Regions from separate parts of the Homo sapiens genome. Here region 2 is linked to region 1. A link means that fine-mapping ties the variant in region 1 to the expression of a gene that starts in the linked region. Tissue or cell type: lung. Region 1 holds a variant in brackets; the other region holds the start of a gene. All regions are shown on one strand. Distances are from middle to middle.

Region 1 (8,186 bases):
TATTTATCTCATACTTATATGACAGCCGCATCCTAACACTATGGTATACTAATAGGTGCTTCATAAGGGATTGCTGAGTGTATGAATGAATGAATGAATGAATGAATGAATGAAACAAGACCAACTCCTTCATTTTGCCTGTGGAAGGACTAAAAATATGAATTTTCCGTTTGACATATGTCTAAGCCAAGATGTTCACATGAGTCAAAATACAGAGAAGCAAGTGGTATTTCTCCGATGTATTAAAGTTCCTAATTTATGTACATGTAATAAAACCTCTCCAAAACGCAAGGGTTGAAAGTGTGTTTATGGCTGTACCAATGCACATCAGTGGAGGATTATTGATTCTTCCAAAATAACTCTCGCGCCAACTGGTTTTCCCCAGAGTGCTTTTTAATTCATAGGACTTTTTCTGTGAATTTTGTATTGTTAAAAAAAAAAGTTATTCATCACATTCATTGAAGACACTAAGGAAGACTTCATTCAAGGGGGTCTTTGTGATAGGTTTAGGGACCACAGACTGCAATGGGGTCTTATAGTGGGGGAGAGAGATTAATCTCAGCTCTGACTCCAACAAGGACAAGTGGGGATTTGTAAGCAACGAGCAGGGTTGGGGGCCGTGGATGGAAAACCACTAAGGAAACATCAGGGGTAGGAGGGATTCTTGCTAGATCAACTCAAATAGAATTCTTGCTAAAGGCAAGCCTGGGTGATAAGATATCGAGGGTGGTCAGATACCAAGGGCAGGAGTTTTTTTGATAAACTGACTTCACAGGATTCTTGCTCAAACTAAATTCCACAATGACAGAGAGGGAAGCCCAAGACAGGTCTGGTCAAGGAGAGGATTCAGAGGAGCCTGACTGTTGTTAGGACAAGGAATGAGTCTTGGTCGGTGTTCAAGAAAGAATTGCTCTTTGAATGCTATGAATGCATCCAGGTGCAGAAATTAATGCGAGGTCAGATCACCATTGCTGTGGAGAGGGATCTCTGCCTATCTTTCTTTTGATTCTTCTGTTCCATAGCCTTGGTCCTAAATACAAGGTTTTCTGAGACTTAAAGGAATTTAGGGTTGCACCAGGCATGGTGGTGCACACCTGTAGTTCCAGCTACTTGGAGGCTGAGGCAGGAGGATTGCTTGATACTATGAGTTCAAGACCAGCCTGAGCAATATAGTGAGACCTTCTGTCTCAAAAAAAACAGGAAAGAGAGAGACAAAGAAAGAGAGAGAGAGAGGAAGGAAGGAAGGAAGGAAGGAAGGAAGGAAGGAAGGAAAGGAAGAAAAAGAAAAGAAATTTAGGGTCGCTCCTTGGTTCCTTGGGTGAGTAAATGTCAATGGCACATACTGAGCTTATCCTATGGTAAATGTACATCAAAATATGCCCAGAAATAATCATTAGGATGATTTTAAAGAGTGACGTGTTCAGTTTTAGTTCTTAAAATATGTCCATAATTCATGGTCAGTCTTAGCTTCCATGCAAGAAAATACTAGATTTAGCACTCCTTGTGTAGGGAAAATCAGAGCATCATACGTCCTCAGACACAGATGGCCATGCCCTCACAAATGTTAAGAATCTCTCAATGTGCGGAAGGACAACGTACATCAGGTAACCTTCAGAGCACTCTGCCTTCTGCCTGGACTGTTCCCTGGGGTCTCTGAAGACCACTTATGGTGTTAAAGGTAGCTGTGCCAAAGGACTGGCAATCAAGCCAGGCTTGAAGGTGTTTTCTAAAGGTGCCCCTGCTTTTTCTCTCTGATTTTGTGACTACAGCTCTTGAGCTTCTATAGTTAGTTGAACAGATTTTAAAAGACCTGTGATACCACAGGTGCCCTGCACATTGTTGGGCTCATCATATAGCCTGCTTGTTTTTGCAACCAGCACAAGATCAAAGCCATGCTCGTGGGATTCCTTACCAAGGTAGTGCCGGGGATGCAGAACTATCCACCTTAGAAGAGGGAACGGGAGACCAAACGTCCTGGTTTGCCCAGGACTGAGGGGTTTCCTAAGATATAGGTCTTTCAGGGCTAAATCGAGAAAAGTCCCACGCAAACCAAGACAAGTTGGTCACCCTATTGAGAGCAACCATCTGTGCCTTCAGTTAGAACTATTCCAACTACATCTAGCATAAATGGCATTGCCTATTAAAACTGCTGGGGACTTCTGCAATCATCTTTCCTCTAATTTTTGCAGAAAGATGCTCATACCCAGAGTGGTGTACACATTTTTCCCAAGGTCACCCAGCTTGCTAGCAGCATATCAGGAACCAGAATCTAGATCGCCACACTTCCAATTTAGGGCATTTTCCACTGCATTATGTTTTTCACTTTCCTATTCTCTTTTTTTATCACTCTCTTAAAATGTAAAATTCATTCAGCCAGGTTTTCTTTTGGCCACAGAACTCGGCTGTTAGGATAGTGAAGACTGTTCTTCCCATTTATATTGGGCACCACTTTTGGTTGTATTTATGATGGGATGGATGGTGAATGAGGGCTACAATGAAATCAGGTTGTTGTAAATGACCTCAATTGATTACCATCTCTATAATCACATGACATTCATTCCTACCTGTTGTTTCTACAGCCCACTGGAAGTATTGTTGTTGTTTTTAAGAGACGGGGTTTCTCTATGTTGCCCAGGCCAGTCTCAAATTCCTGGGCTCAAGCAATCCTACTGCCTCAGCCTTCTGTGTAGCTGGGATTACAAGAATGCACCACGGCACTCAGCTGAAAGTTGTTGCTGTTGTTGTTGTTTGAGACAGTCTTGCTCTGTTGCCCAGGCTGGAGTGCAGTGGTGTGATCATGGCTCACTGCAACCTCTGCCTCCCAGGTTCAAGTGATTCTCATGCCTCAGCCTCCAAGTGGCTGGGATTACAGGCATGCGCCACCATGCCTGACTAATTTTTGTATTTTTTAGTAGAGATGGGGTTTCACTATGTTGGCCAGGCTGGTCTCAAACTCCTGATCTCAGGTGATGCACCTGCCTTGGCCTCCTAAAATGCTGAGATACCAAAAGCATTGCTTTTATTTATAGAGTCCTAATCAATTCAGTAGTAGGAGGAGTGGGAGAGGCTCCTTTTTCAATCCAGGGACCTCCATAATGTTGTTTTTTTTGTTACCAAACACACAGGTAAGTGGCATCATGGATTTGGTAAACTAACAACAATGTGAGTGCATCAATCTCTGCTTCTGTAAGAATCCCGACTTTAGGATTTTCAACTGTCACTACTCCAACTTCTATTTCTGAAGGTTTGAAATCAATTGATAGAACAGTAGACAGGCATGTAATTGCAGTTTCCACTGTCTGTTCAAATGTCCAATCAAATTTCTTTTGCACTTTTTTTTTTTTTTTTTTTTCTGAGACGGAGTCTCGCTCTGTCGCCCAGGCTGGAGTGCAGTGGCGCGATCTCGGCTCACTGCAGGCTCCGCCCCCCGGGCTCACGCCATTCTCCTGCCTCAGCCTCCAGAGTAGTTGGGACTACAGGCGCCCGCCACCTCGCCCGGCTAATTTTTTGTACTTTTAGTAGAGACTGGGTTTCACCGTGTTAGCCAGGATGGTCTCGATCTCCTGACCTGGTGATCCACCCGCCTCGGCCTCCCAAAGTGCTGGGATTACAGGCGTGAGCCACCGCACCCGGCCCACTTTTTTTTTTCAAGGAAGCTGGTTAACTCAGTTTGTTTAACTCCTGCTGCAGTGGCTTTAAATCACAGCAGTAACCTGCAGGATCATACTTTCACACCTGAGGGCCTTGTTCTTCATCTATACCAATGAAAATCATACAACCAAGAGACCTCATTGTAGCATTCTGAGTAGTATCAGCAATTCCACACAGAATGTCCACAGGAATCTCATAGCCGTACTTGTATTTCCAGTTAGCTGCCCCATAGCGTGCCCTCTGTACCTCTGTCATTCCGGTCATCACAGTGACAGCCAATGTTTTCAGTTATTTTGAGTAAGTGAGTCACTGTGCTGGAATCCGATAATTTGTCAAGCATTTCTTCTGTATGATAATTACAGCAGTCTTTTCCTCTGACAAATACTGATGGAAGGCCACCCAGGTTAATAGCCTTAAAAGCATATGCATATTCTACTTGGTAGTGCTGGCCCTCGGGCGAAAAAAATGTTAATGTGGTGGGCAAAACCAGCGCTGGAACCACGGGACATGCTGGTAGAACCACTACTTTCAGCATAATCAAGTTTTTTTTTTTTTTTTTTTTTTAACATGCAACTATTTGTCACCTAAATGCTACCCTTCACTGAGGCAGTCACATGCCAAGACAATGTAGCCCTTCTAAAATGGCAGGAGGGCAGTCTGTTCCCCTCTAGGATGAACACCTAGAAAATGCATGAAAATCTTGCCTCTTCATACCTTACATTCTTTCTAGGGGAGTTTCAGGAGGCTCACTCTAAAAACTGAAGTTAATGTACAAACCAAGCAATTCTAAACACTTTACACATAACGTCTCATTTATTATCCCCATCTCACATGTAAGGAAACTGAGGCATAGGGGTTAAGCAACCAGCCCAAGGTCGTTGTTGCTGTTGGTTTTTAAACTCCGGTAAGTGGTGAAGTCTGTGTTCCTGGGCATTATGCTTTCAGAATAGGAAACAGAGCTCAAAGACTGCAATAAAGGAAACCACCCAGGATGTGATCTTGGAAAGCAGGGGCAGAAAAAAGGTGGAGGGATGTGTTCCTGGGGCACAGGGAGATAAATCAGGAAGATAAATATTGGTAATGAGAAGGAGGAGCCCTGTTGATTTCACGCAATTTAGATACAGGATAGCTGAGTATGTTTCAGCCCCTAACTCCCATCTTCCCTGGCACATCCTTGCTCAAACACATCATGTACCAAAC[G/A]CCCTCTGCTGTCCTGCGTCAGTCCACACTGGAACACACCATAGGGTTCTGGAAAATTCCGACGTGAACCGTCTAATGGTGATCACCGAGCCCTTCCTGGTATCCCCAGCGTGATTCCAACCTCTGCACGCCTTAGTACTCCATCTTTCCCTTCACTACTTCCCTGTCCCCTGTAGTTCAGCTAGGGGATTAGATAGGACATGCCATAGGAAATGAAACGTCTCTGAAGAGGTGTGGCAGCATTATTAAGTGCAATTGTAAAGCTGATGAAGTGTCTTTGGCTTTCACTTCTCCTTCACTTCCCTCCTTTCTAGTACATTCTATCATGTTCTCTCACACTGTGATCACCTTTTTTCTCAGATGGACCTGGATGTAATTCTTCATATTTCACTGTGACTTCAAGACACCATGTTGCCATTCTTAGTGTTACACATACTTTACAGCTGAGCTTCACCAGGGGAACGTAATTATGACTTGACTTTGCGCTCACGAGAGTAGTTTGAAGTATCACTGAACAGGCTGTTCTATGGGGACAGGAATCCTCCTCGGTGCTTCTGAAATCAATGAATATGAACAAGTTTTATGCAGCCTACATTTAAGTTTGGTTTGCTCCAATAGATGGATATTGAACATCACTACTCTGATGCGTGAACACACTGTACCATCTTTAATTTTATAGGAAACATGTGGAATTAACAACGTGGACACCTTATGTGGCACAGCTGTTACGCTTTGAGGAAAGGCGATTGCTGGTAAGTTCTTCAGGAAGAAACACCTTCAAAATGGAAAACAGCTGACATCAATTAACTTCTGGCTTTTCTGTAATTTTGTATGCTGGCCTATAATCGTAAAGTAGCAAACATTTTCAGGTACTGCAACACATCACTCCGTCAAAACATATTACTCCACAATGATACATACAAACTATGAACGCAGTCAGAATGATTTTATTGAAATGTTTTAGTACAGTGTTAGAGGATCTTAAAATCTTACATTTTAAACCAATACAAGCACTGCAAATGATATACTCCTGAATCTAGTTGATGTAGTATCTAAAAAGAAAAGTGATCATATGAGTATCTATAAGTTGACTAATGTAATTTAAGTTGGAGGCTAAACAAACAACTTTGGTATATTCATATTTCTCTGGCTCCTGTTTTTGGCCAGATAAATGCCAGGTCCACCCCCATTCAGTAGAATTGGACAGGACCAATGTATTTGGTGGTCTCACTTAAGTTTCCACGCCAGGAGCAGCAAGAAATGTACAAATTTTGGGATTAAGCTGCTCCCAAGACAGTCTTCATCACCTTTGTGAACTGGAAACACCAAATAGTCAAGGTCTGAATTTCCATTGTGTGTGGCTAAGTCCAGTCGCATTGGTTCATAAATGTATTCTGAAGGATTTTAAAATACAAAGGTGGGGCTAAATAATGATAGAAACCATCAGTTCTTAATTCAGAGAATGACAATGCAGGTTCCTATATCCTTTTTAAAAATCTGAGATCATTATTTTAAAACTAGCTCTATACATTCTTAGGCTTTAAATTTAATCTTAGCTGAAATGATTACCTTTAAGTCAGTTGGCTTTAGGCCTTGGCGATTGCTCAATATAATTTTGGAATTTTAGGATGCAGCATTTCAGGTAAGTGACAGTTATGTTTTAGAAGAGGTCATTTAAAAAATGATCCAGAAATACACTGCTCTGATATGTCTAATGTATACCCCCCAAAATGTGTCAGTGTCCATATTAAGCTAAATAAAATTTGGTCCAAATTAAGCACAGTAACCAAGATGGTTTATCTGAAACTGAGTTATCCAAAAAAAAAAAAAAAAGGAAAATTCAAAATCCATGGTATTATAATTATAAATTTTCCAAGGTTCACTCCAAAGTAAAAGGATAATTAATTCTATACAGGGTTTTACCCAAATGTCCATAGGCATTATCAGTATATATTTACACAGAAGGCTTTAATCTGAAGTCACCTTTGGCAACCTCGAAATATATAAACTATGACTTCCACAATGAAATTATATACTTGAAAGTTGTCGCCTCAAAGTACTGAAAGAACAAAGGAAGAGATCACCTGTACCTGTTAAAAGTCAAAATGACAAAAACGTTTCTCATTTAAGACAGTTCACTTAAAGACCAAATAACCACCACCATTTCCCCAAAAACTGGAAAGAAATGATCTTGAGCTTTAGAAGGGGAAACAATAAATCTTAGCATATACAAAGATCTGATGCTTTTGCCAGTGATTAACCTATCATTGCTGAATACCTACAGCTAAAAATCCAGAAAACAAAAACAAGTCAGAAGTCAGAGTAGGCTTGCTGGACACTTCCCATTCTGGATTTATAGCGGGACATGGCTGAACAGGTAGGACACGGATTCCCCATTGTGTGTCCTTCGGATTGCTTCGGCCAAGATCATGGAAATGTCAATGACCTAAATGCCAATGAGAAAAACAAAGGGAGAAGGGAAGCAGGACATCTTAGTTAGAGTTCTTTAAACATTGAAAAGCTGGAAAGCTGAGAAACAATTTCTGCAGCATACATGATGTGTTGCTATCAAAACTTCCGACACTTTTGAGAGGACAGACAGCTTTGGGGTATGTCTTCAAATTACAACCCGTTGAACCAGACCCATATGGGATCCTGGAAGGGAGATTTTCAATGCAGAGACAGAAGGCTTTTCAGGGATACTGTTAACCAGAGACATCCTTTTCCAGGGGCATTTGTTGTTTTAAATTAAGTTTAATCATTATACGGAAGGTTTTTCTTTCTGTTTCTGAAAAGGCGGTGACTGCGTCATTTAAGAGCACAACTGTGATCATCTAACTCAGGGGTCAGCAAACTATAGAGGACCAAATAGTTAACATATTTGACCTTGGAAGCCAGAGGGTCTCTGTCACAAATACTCAACTTGCCCATTGTAGCGTGAAAGCAGCCACGGGCAATACATATATGAATGGACGTGGCTGTGCTCTGATAAAAATTTGCAGAAACAGATGACAGGCTGGATTTCACTTGCGAGCCATAGTGTGCCAACTCCCATCCTAAACTACTGCTAATCAGGCATGAAAATATATGACATCGCTATCCTGACCATTTCCAGACTTACTGCTTTGTGTCAAGCAAATTGCTTTTCTCTCTGAGGAATCAGAAATCATGAAGCAGATCACTGTGATGCACCTTCATGCTACGCTGATGGGAGCCGAGGCTTTGGAGCAATGAAATGACTTGCCAAGGTTCACAGCGACATAGAGGCAAAATGGGCCTCAAACCCTTTTGACTTATTTCAGGCCAATTGCTATCTATATGATTACCAGCTCTCT
Region 2 (8,186 bases), 34 kb after region 1:
AGACCTTTAAGAGGTGATTAGGTCATAAGGGCTCTGTCCTCACAAACGGATTAACGTCATCATTGCTAGAGTGTGCTCATTATCTTGAGAATGGGTTTATTATATTAGCAAATTTGGCCCTCTATTGCTCTCTCTCAAATATGCTCTCTTGCCCTTCCACCCTTCTGCCATGGGATGATGCAGCAAGAAAGCCCTTGCCAGATGCCAGCCCCTCAGTATTGGACTTCCCAGCCTCCAGACCTGTGAGAAACAAATTTCTATTGTTTATAAATTAGCCAGTCTCTGGTATTCTGTTATAGCAGCACAAAATGAACTACAGCAGAAATCAAGTACAGTATTATATAGCTGAGAGGTTGACAAAACACAGCACATAGGCTGTTTTTCTATGGCCTGTGAGTTAAGAATGGCGTGGTAGGCAGAATAATGGCCCCCTAAAGATGTCTACATCCTAATCCTTTGAATATGTGAGTTTATATGGCAAAGGGGAAGTAAATTTGCAGATAGCATTCAGGTTGCTCATCAGCTGACCTTAACATGGGGAAATTATCCTGGATTATTTAAATTGGCCCATTGTAATCATGGGGCCCTTAAAAATGCAAGAGGGAGACAGCAGAAGCAGGGTCAGAGCAACATTTTGTTGCTGACATTGAAGGTGAAGAGGCCAATAGTGAAGGAATGTGGGCTGCCTCTGGAAACCGGAAAAGGCACGGGAACAGATTCTCCCCTAGAGCCTCAGAAGAGAATACAGCCCTGCTAACCTGTGACAGACATTACCGTAACTTACAGAACTGTAAGATACCGCAGCAACAGAGACTACATGTGCTAGCACTGCCTAAAATATTTACGATTTGGCCCTTTGCAGAAAAACTTTGCCAACTCCTGGTCTTATGACGTTTATCCCACAAGATTAGATTCTTTGGCCTGTTTTTACTCAGGAACCTCAGTTCTCATATGACTAGCAGTCCAGGGGAGGACAGAGAATATCATCACCATGGCAACTTTTCCCCTAAAGCTAGTCCTGCTTCTACTCAAAAAGATGATCATGACTACCTTTATTCTAGGTCTTTAAAAAATTGTGGCTAGAAGGCAGCATCCATTTGCCATTCTGCCAGAGGATCTTTATTGACCCCCAAATAAAAACGCTGAAGAGCGTCACTGACTCAACAATAAACGGGCATGGTAACTAAAAGATAGCCACAGACTCTTAACACATTTCCCATCAAGGAGCAGGGTCTAGTCTCCCGCCCTTGAATCTGAGAGGGCTCTGTACTTGCCCAACAGCATATGACAGAAATTATGATACACCAACTTGCAAGCCCAGTCCTTAATGGACTGGTGGCTTCAATGTCCTGTCTTTTGGAACATGTGCTCTTAGAACCCAGCTTCCATGCTGTAAGGAAGCTCAAGCAGCCCCATGGAGAGGCCTACAAGAAGAGGAGCTGAGGTTCCTAACCAAGCTCCCAGGCAAAAGCTAGTAACAACTTCAGTCATGTGAGCCATCTTCAAGAACCCTCCAGCCCCAGTTAGCCGCCTCAGCTGTGACCAGCCTCAGCTGTGACCATACGCGGCAAAAACAAGCTTTCTTCACTGAGCCCTTCCCAAATTGCAGATTTGTAAGCCAAATCAACAATTACTGTTTTAAGCCATTAAGCTCTTTATTTATTACATGGTAACCGATAACCTTGTATAACTTTGCATAACCTTGTCTCACAGTATAGCTAAAGATTCTGCCAGCAGGTTAACTGACCATAGTAAAATGTTACAACAGAGACATCTAGACACCTGCTGTCCTAAGATGTCATCATGGAATTTCCATGGTCTATAGTGAAGCTGGAGCGGACCTCTCCCTGCATATCTGAAATGATTTAGGGATAAGAAGGTAAAATTGGAAGGCTCTATGTTCAGTAAAGTAGCATATAAAAAACGCAAAATGGGAGGATTGATGGCCAGGAGACAGCAAACCAGATTTCTGATCCTAGTTCAGTGACAGATTCAAGAAGGGGCCCTTACATGAACTGAATCAATTTTGTCTTCATTTTGCCCTTCAGTTTTTCCTCTCTACGATTACACAGCTAAAAGCTGGATTCCTAGCACAGTAACTGGTCCAGAGAGGGCTGTTTATAAAAATTAAGCTCTGTACTTGTACAGTTCATGGAAAAGAGAAAAGTCAGGCAGTGAACCTTTTATACTCTATACATTAAAAACATAAAATGTAGCTATATAGGCAATTCCCAAACTTCATGCTGAGTGGTTTTTGAGGTCCCACGATTTCTAATTATCAAGTGATGGTTATAAAATGCCAAAAACAAAATAAAAGTGAGTCTGCTTTATATTTGAACCAAATGTATAAACAATCATACTTCAGTGTCTGAGTGAGTTTTGCCCAGTGGCACATGTGGTATTTTTAGGAGAAACTCAACACTGACTTAGCAGTGAACTGATCTAGATTAACCATGCTCCTTAGCAAAAGATCATGCTGCACTGAGTACCTGGAAGGGCAACATATTTGCTTTCAAAATTTACTTCATCAACAAATTTCTCCTTTACTTATATGACGACACCTTCTGAACAAAAACTATTCTTCTTCTCGTGTTCTTACAGCGACTGAAACTTGAACAAGACTGGCAAAATACTGCAACACTCAAACCTAGCTCTATCCTTCTCCAGAGCCCTAGACCATCCTCTCAGACTTCTGCATTAAACACTGCAGAGTGGAATTCTTTAGCCAAAGTCCACCTGCCACTCATTCACAATGTTTCTTCGCTTATATTATCATCGGAGCCATAACTGGAATTTGCCACCTGGAAGAAGTCACGTAAGATTCACATATCCTAAAAAGCTGACTTGCCAAAATATAGCATCTTCCCCATCAGTATTAACATAACTCCTCCTTAAGAAATTTTTGCCTAACCCCAAGTCAAGATTTTCTGCTAGAAATTTTATAGTTCTAGATTTTACAATTAGGTCTATGATCCACTTCAAAGTTAATTTTTACAAATGGTGAAAAGTATGGATGGAAGTTCATATTTTTTGGCATATGGGTGTCCAACTGTTCCAACACCATTTCTAGAAAATGTTGGTAAAATTGAACCTTTGCCAAAGATATAAAAATTATCAGTAACTGTGGACAGTTAACGGTACTAGACATTGGAGGAAGAAGGGGGAAAAATGAGACCAATTTGAAATGAGTCAAGGAGCTGTGTGGACTCAGGCAGATAGACAAAGGAGCCCCCCAGGTCAGCTTCCGAGGATGGCCACCACCTGAGGCTCTCCTGGACTTGAGAAATGGGTGAAAGTTACAGTCGAATCACGGCGTTGTTGCTGGACACAGCAGAGTCCTAGAACAAGAAGGAAGCTGAAAGTCCATCATCTTTAAAGCAGCAAGAGTAGTGGGAGCAGAGGGGAGCCCAGCACGTGCGTCCTGGGGTTCTCACAGTCTTTCAAACCTTGGCACAACTGCACCCTCTGGATAACGCAGTGGTCTGCGCCCTGGCTGCTCAGGAGAAGCCAGGGAAGCTTGTAAAATCGCTGATCCTCCGCCCGTTGGATCAAACCCTTGGGGGCAGGTCGGGGGAAGCAGCGTTCGGACCGTCCCCAGGTAAACCCAGCGTGCAACCAGAGTTGGGGACGGGGGGAAACCTTTAGTCGCACGCACTGGTCTGAGGTTCAGCTTTGTAGGGACGCGGAAACTGGGACCAGCCAACCCAGGACGTCTCTCCACCGCGCGCTGACCCGATGCGGTTCCCGCCCGCTGCGCCCACTCTCTCCCCGACGGTCTGTGACCGCCCAGACGTCTCCCTTCCGGGCTGGGGACGCCAGGCCGGGCGGCACCGCTGGGAGGCCGGGAGCGGCTCGGGACCGCCGGGTCGCCGCGGTCCCAGGACCGGAGGCCCTGCAACCGGGGGCACAGCCGAGGCGCGCATCGGGACGCGCGGCGCCCCGCCTCGGTTTCTTCGCAGGCGCGGGCGCGGGGGCGCGGAGGCCGCGTTGCCACCGTCCCGCCCCGGAAGGGGGAGCGCGGCGTCCGCGGAGGTGGCCCGGGCAGGCGCCGGCCCCCAACCCGGCCCCGCAGCCGCGTGCCCAGCGCTCTCCCTAGCCCGGCCGCCGGCGCGGCCCCCACCTGGTCTCCTGGTTGCTGAACTTCTTCGTGACCACCTTGCCCAGCTCCAGGCCCAGGCGGTCGGCCACGCGCTGGGACAGGTCCTGATGCGAGCTGCCGCTGAACAGCACGATGTTGGGCATGGTGGGGCGCGGAACTCCGAGGGGCGCGCGGCGGCGGAGGAGGTGGCGGAGGCAACAGCGACAGCGACGCGGGAGGCTGCTGCTGCGGGAGCGGGAAAGCGCGGCGGCTAGATGTAGGGAAGGGGAGGAGCGGAGGGGGAGGAGCCGGAGGAGGAGCTAGAGGGGGCAGAGAGGGAGGAAGAGCGGGCGTGGAGGGGGAGCTGGAAAGTGCCGGGGGGCGGGGGCACAGCCCTGGCAGCAGTTTTGGACGCCCTGGGTGGTCCTGAAGCCCGAAGGTGTCCTTGCTCCGCGAGAGAGCTCCGAGCTTCATTCTTGATCTTCCAGACCTGCCTCGCGGGGAGAGCCAATGAACCGCGGTTAGCTGGGCACAGAGGGAGAGTTCGGGCCGGGGGGATCCCTCGAGGTGCTTCGCAGCCCGGAGCGACTTCCCACCCCGGAACACCGCAAACCCAGTGTGGGCGACTGGTGTTCAGCTATAGCAAGGGTCTGCAAACTACAGCCTATGGGCCAGATCGCGAGAGCTCCCTGTGTTTGTACCAGAGAGCTAAGCATGGTTTTCATACATGAACATTTGCACTTTATGTGATGATAGCAGACACCGCCTTTGAACTCCAATTAAGAGAAATATCCCCCCCGCAAAAGAATTCCTTTTCTCTCATTAATAGATGTGAGTTGCAAATAATTGTACTCAAATATTACCGTATTTTGGATTATATCAATAAAAACATTGTGACAATTTTTTCTCTCTTGTTATGTAAGTTCCTACGTAATATCTTCCCTTTTCTTGCTTGGTCTGCAAAATGTAAATATTGGCCATGTGGTCCCTCATAGTTCAAACTTGATGACCCCTGAACTACAGAGTTGCCCCTGCACCATGTGTCCTTAAAAAATCCAACCACTATGTGAGTCCTCATCACAGGCTGAGGGGAAGTATTGCTCTTGGTGGCTCACTGGATCAAACCAAGTCCCCCAGATTCACCATTTTTCGGTAGATGTGATGGTCCTTGGGGCACTTCACAACCTTCTGCCTGTTGGGTGCTCAAGGGCCTGATCCCAGGAACACAGATCTCCCTAGACAATCCAGCTCAGTCCCTCCACATCCCTGGAGTCAGGGCCTCCTTCCTCTCTTTCCTGCTAGAAACCAGCAAAAAGGTTTTCTCAAGATGCCAATGCAGTACCAGAGCCAACTTCAGGGCACAAACCAAGTGTAGGAGAAAGGAAAGCAGTCCCTGTCTATAGAGGGCTGGTTGGTGATGCTGGTCACAGTTTCACACTCCTCAACAAAGGCTGATTCAACCGGGTAGATAAATGGCTTGGTTTTACTAATGTTTGCCACGAATTGGCTCTCCATCAACAGCAAAGCCCACTTGCAATTGGGTTGTAGCCTACTCTAATCAGACTTCATAATGGGATTTGGGAGATTACAGGGATGATTCGCATCATTGGGATTTTTCATCTGGGTCCTTGTACTTTGCAAGGAGATTACTTGGCACATCGAGTGTTTCTTGTAAACTTTTGTATCTGCCAGCCTATCAAAAAGTTATTCAAACTGACAATTTTAGCAGCATTTCTGGCCCTTTTTCATTCCGCCTAGAGATGCATATGTGCCCTATTATGTGAGAAAACAAACAAAAACCCCTATCTGCAATGGTTTATTATCTATGTATTTCACAGCTAATTACCATAGCAATGAGATTTATACTTGACCCACTATGTTTAAAATTTTTATTGAGTCTGCTAATGTAGTTATATTTAAACTCTTCTAATAAAATTTACTATCAGCAAATTACTATAATTTTTATATTCTTAATATTTCTCTCATAGATAAAATTGACTAATAATGGTTTCTTCTAAATATATAGATGCTCTTCTCAAAGGGAAAGTGGCATCCTCTTAGCATGATGGGGCTGTGGTTCTTTGGTAACACAGAACCAAAGCTGATGGACTATAAAACAGTAAAAGTTAAAGCCCCTGGTCTTTGGGTGGGTAAATGGCTGCAGATTTGGAAGCTCGGATTGAATTGTGACAAACCATGGACTTGATAGCACCAAGGAGAAACAATATCTCAGTTGGGGCAACTAATACAATGATTGTTGGTTCAATAGTTTGATGAGTTACTCTGCTTAAATGCTAAATGTAAACAAGGTGAAATGTGCCATTGGGGTTGATGAGAATACTAATGGGAATCATTGAAAAATCATCATGAGTCACAGACTGTTCAGAAAGCTGTCACTTGTAAATGAGCAGCTACAGATAATTTTATTTAAGTGTGAAAACTTTCTCTCCCAAATGCCTTTATCCTTGATCCATAGGAGCCAGGTTGTGGGAAACATTGGTCTAGAGCAGGTTTCTGAACCTCAGCACAGCTGATATTTAGGCTGGGTAATTCTTTGTTGTGGGACTGTCCTGTGCATTGCAGATTGTTTAGCAGCCTCCCTTGCCTCTACCCACTAGATGCCAGTAGCACCTATCCACCACTGTGACAACCAAAAGTGTCCCCAGACATTGCCAAATGTCCTACAAGGAGCAAAATCACCACAGGTTGAGAATCACTAGTTTGAAAGAACCCCTGGCCCTTCTCTCCTCCATGTGGGCCTTTCTTCATGGTTGTTTGGGCTTCCTTACGGCATGGCTGCAAGGTTCCAAGGAGTGTTCCAAGAAGATAAGTCTCAATGAGCAAGTGCTTATCAAACCTCTGTTTTTAACTTGCTTGCTAATGTCTCATTGACCAAAGCAAGTTACATGGCCAAGACCAGCTGTCAACATGGTATGGGACAACTGGAGGGCATGAGTACTGTCCACCAACTGTCTACCACAGTGCACTTCTTGAACAACATTTGAAGTTGGGGAGCCTCTGGAAAAATGGAACACTTGTTCAAAGACCCAAGACTTAGAAGAGAAAAAGAACATATACTCTGTGCATATGTGATCTGGGTCTCAGACCGTTTATAAAATATACATTATCTTAAGATAAAATGTTAGTGGAAAAAATTAAAATGATGAGATATTTTCTATTGTTGATTTCTATCTTCATTGACTCATGGATAGAGATTAACGGTAAAACAATGATTTGAATTTATGAACAGTTTCACGTCTTCTATTTCCCACATCATCTAGCCAAGTTCTTTGTATATAGTAAGAAGTCTAAGTATTTGCTGAGTGAATTTATCCCTGACTATTTTAGGGCTGAGAAACGGAAGAAATTTCCCCAAGTCACATGGCTAGTTGAAAGCAGCAAAGGAATTAGAATGTGGATCTTCTAGTCCAGTCCTTTTCTCTCTAGAATGGTACCATCCAAAAGAAATGTAATGATTGTTTCCTATATGTTTCTATGAAAAAATTTTAAACTTTTTAAAAAGAAATATAATGCAAGCCACATATGTAATTTACACTTTAGTAGCTGTATTTTAAAAGAATATAAAAAACAAGTGAAGGTAATTTTAATAATACACTTTAATCCAATATCCAAAATATTATCATTCCAACATGTAATCAACATAAAACATATTAATGAGCTACTTTGCATCTTTTTGTGTCAAGCCTTCAAAATCCAATATAGATTTTACGCTTACAGCACATCTTAATTTGGACTTGCCATATCTGAAGTGCTCATCAGCCACATGTGGCTGATAGTTGCTGTATTAGAACAAGAAGTTCTAGAACACTAGTTCCTAAGAGCAATGCCAAGACACTCTGACATAACCTTTTTCTTGTATGTTTTTATTAGGGGTGTGGCAAATAATTTATAACTTATTATGAAATGCTAACATTTATAAGCAATGTACTTTAAAAATAAGTTAAAATAGATTCAACTTTAATTCTCTATTAATAACATTTTCACTCAGAATCAAGTAATTTTTCTGATTTTTATTTCTAGAACTTTACCTTTTACTTCTGTTGTTTAAAGAAAAATCCAAAAACCGAGATGAAAATAGAGTGAACAC

Evidence for each region. PIP is the estimated chance that this variant, and not a neighbour inherited with it, causes the effect.
Region 2: PRPS2 starts here. The variant in region 1 is fine-mapped to the expression of PRPS2 in lung (TOPMed, PIP 0.99).

The regions. Positions count from the first base shown.
Region 1 is chrX:12,821,815-12,830,000 of GRCh38, reverse strand. PRPS2 (phosphoribosyl pyrophosphate synthetase 2) reads right to left here. Exons shown (of 7, transcript NM_002765.5): 7 at 5,779-7,297. The coding sequence ends at 7,205. It also overlaps the pseudogene PSMA6P2. Among named protein-coding and RNA genes, the nearest start is that of PRPS2, 34 kb to the right of the region's middle. The variant G/A (reference allele first, on the strand shown) is at 4,852.
Region 2 is chrX:12,787,554-12,795,739 of GRCh38, reverse strand. PRPS2 (phosphoribosyl pyrophosphate synthetase 2) reads right to left here and starts at 4,328. Exons shown (of 7, transcript NM_002765.5): 1 at 4,121-4,328. The coding sequence starts at 4,242. RefSeq lists a silencer at 3,623-4,072.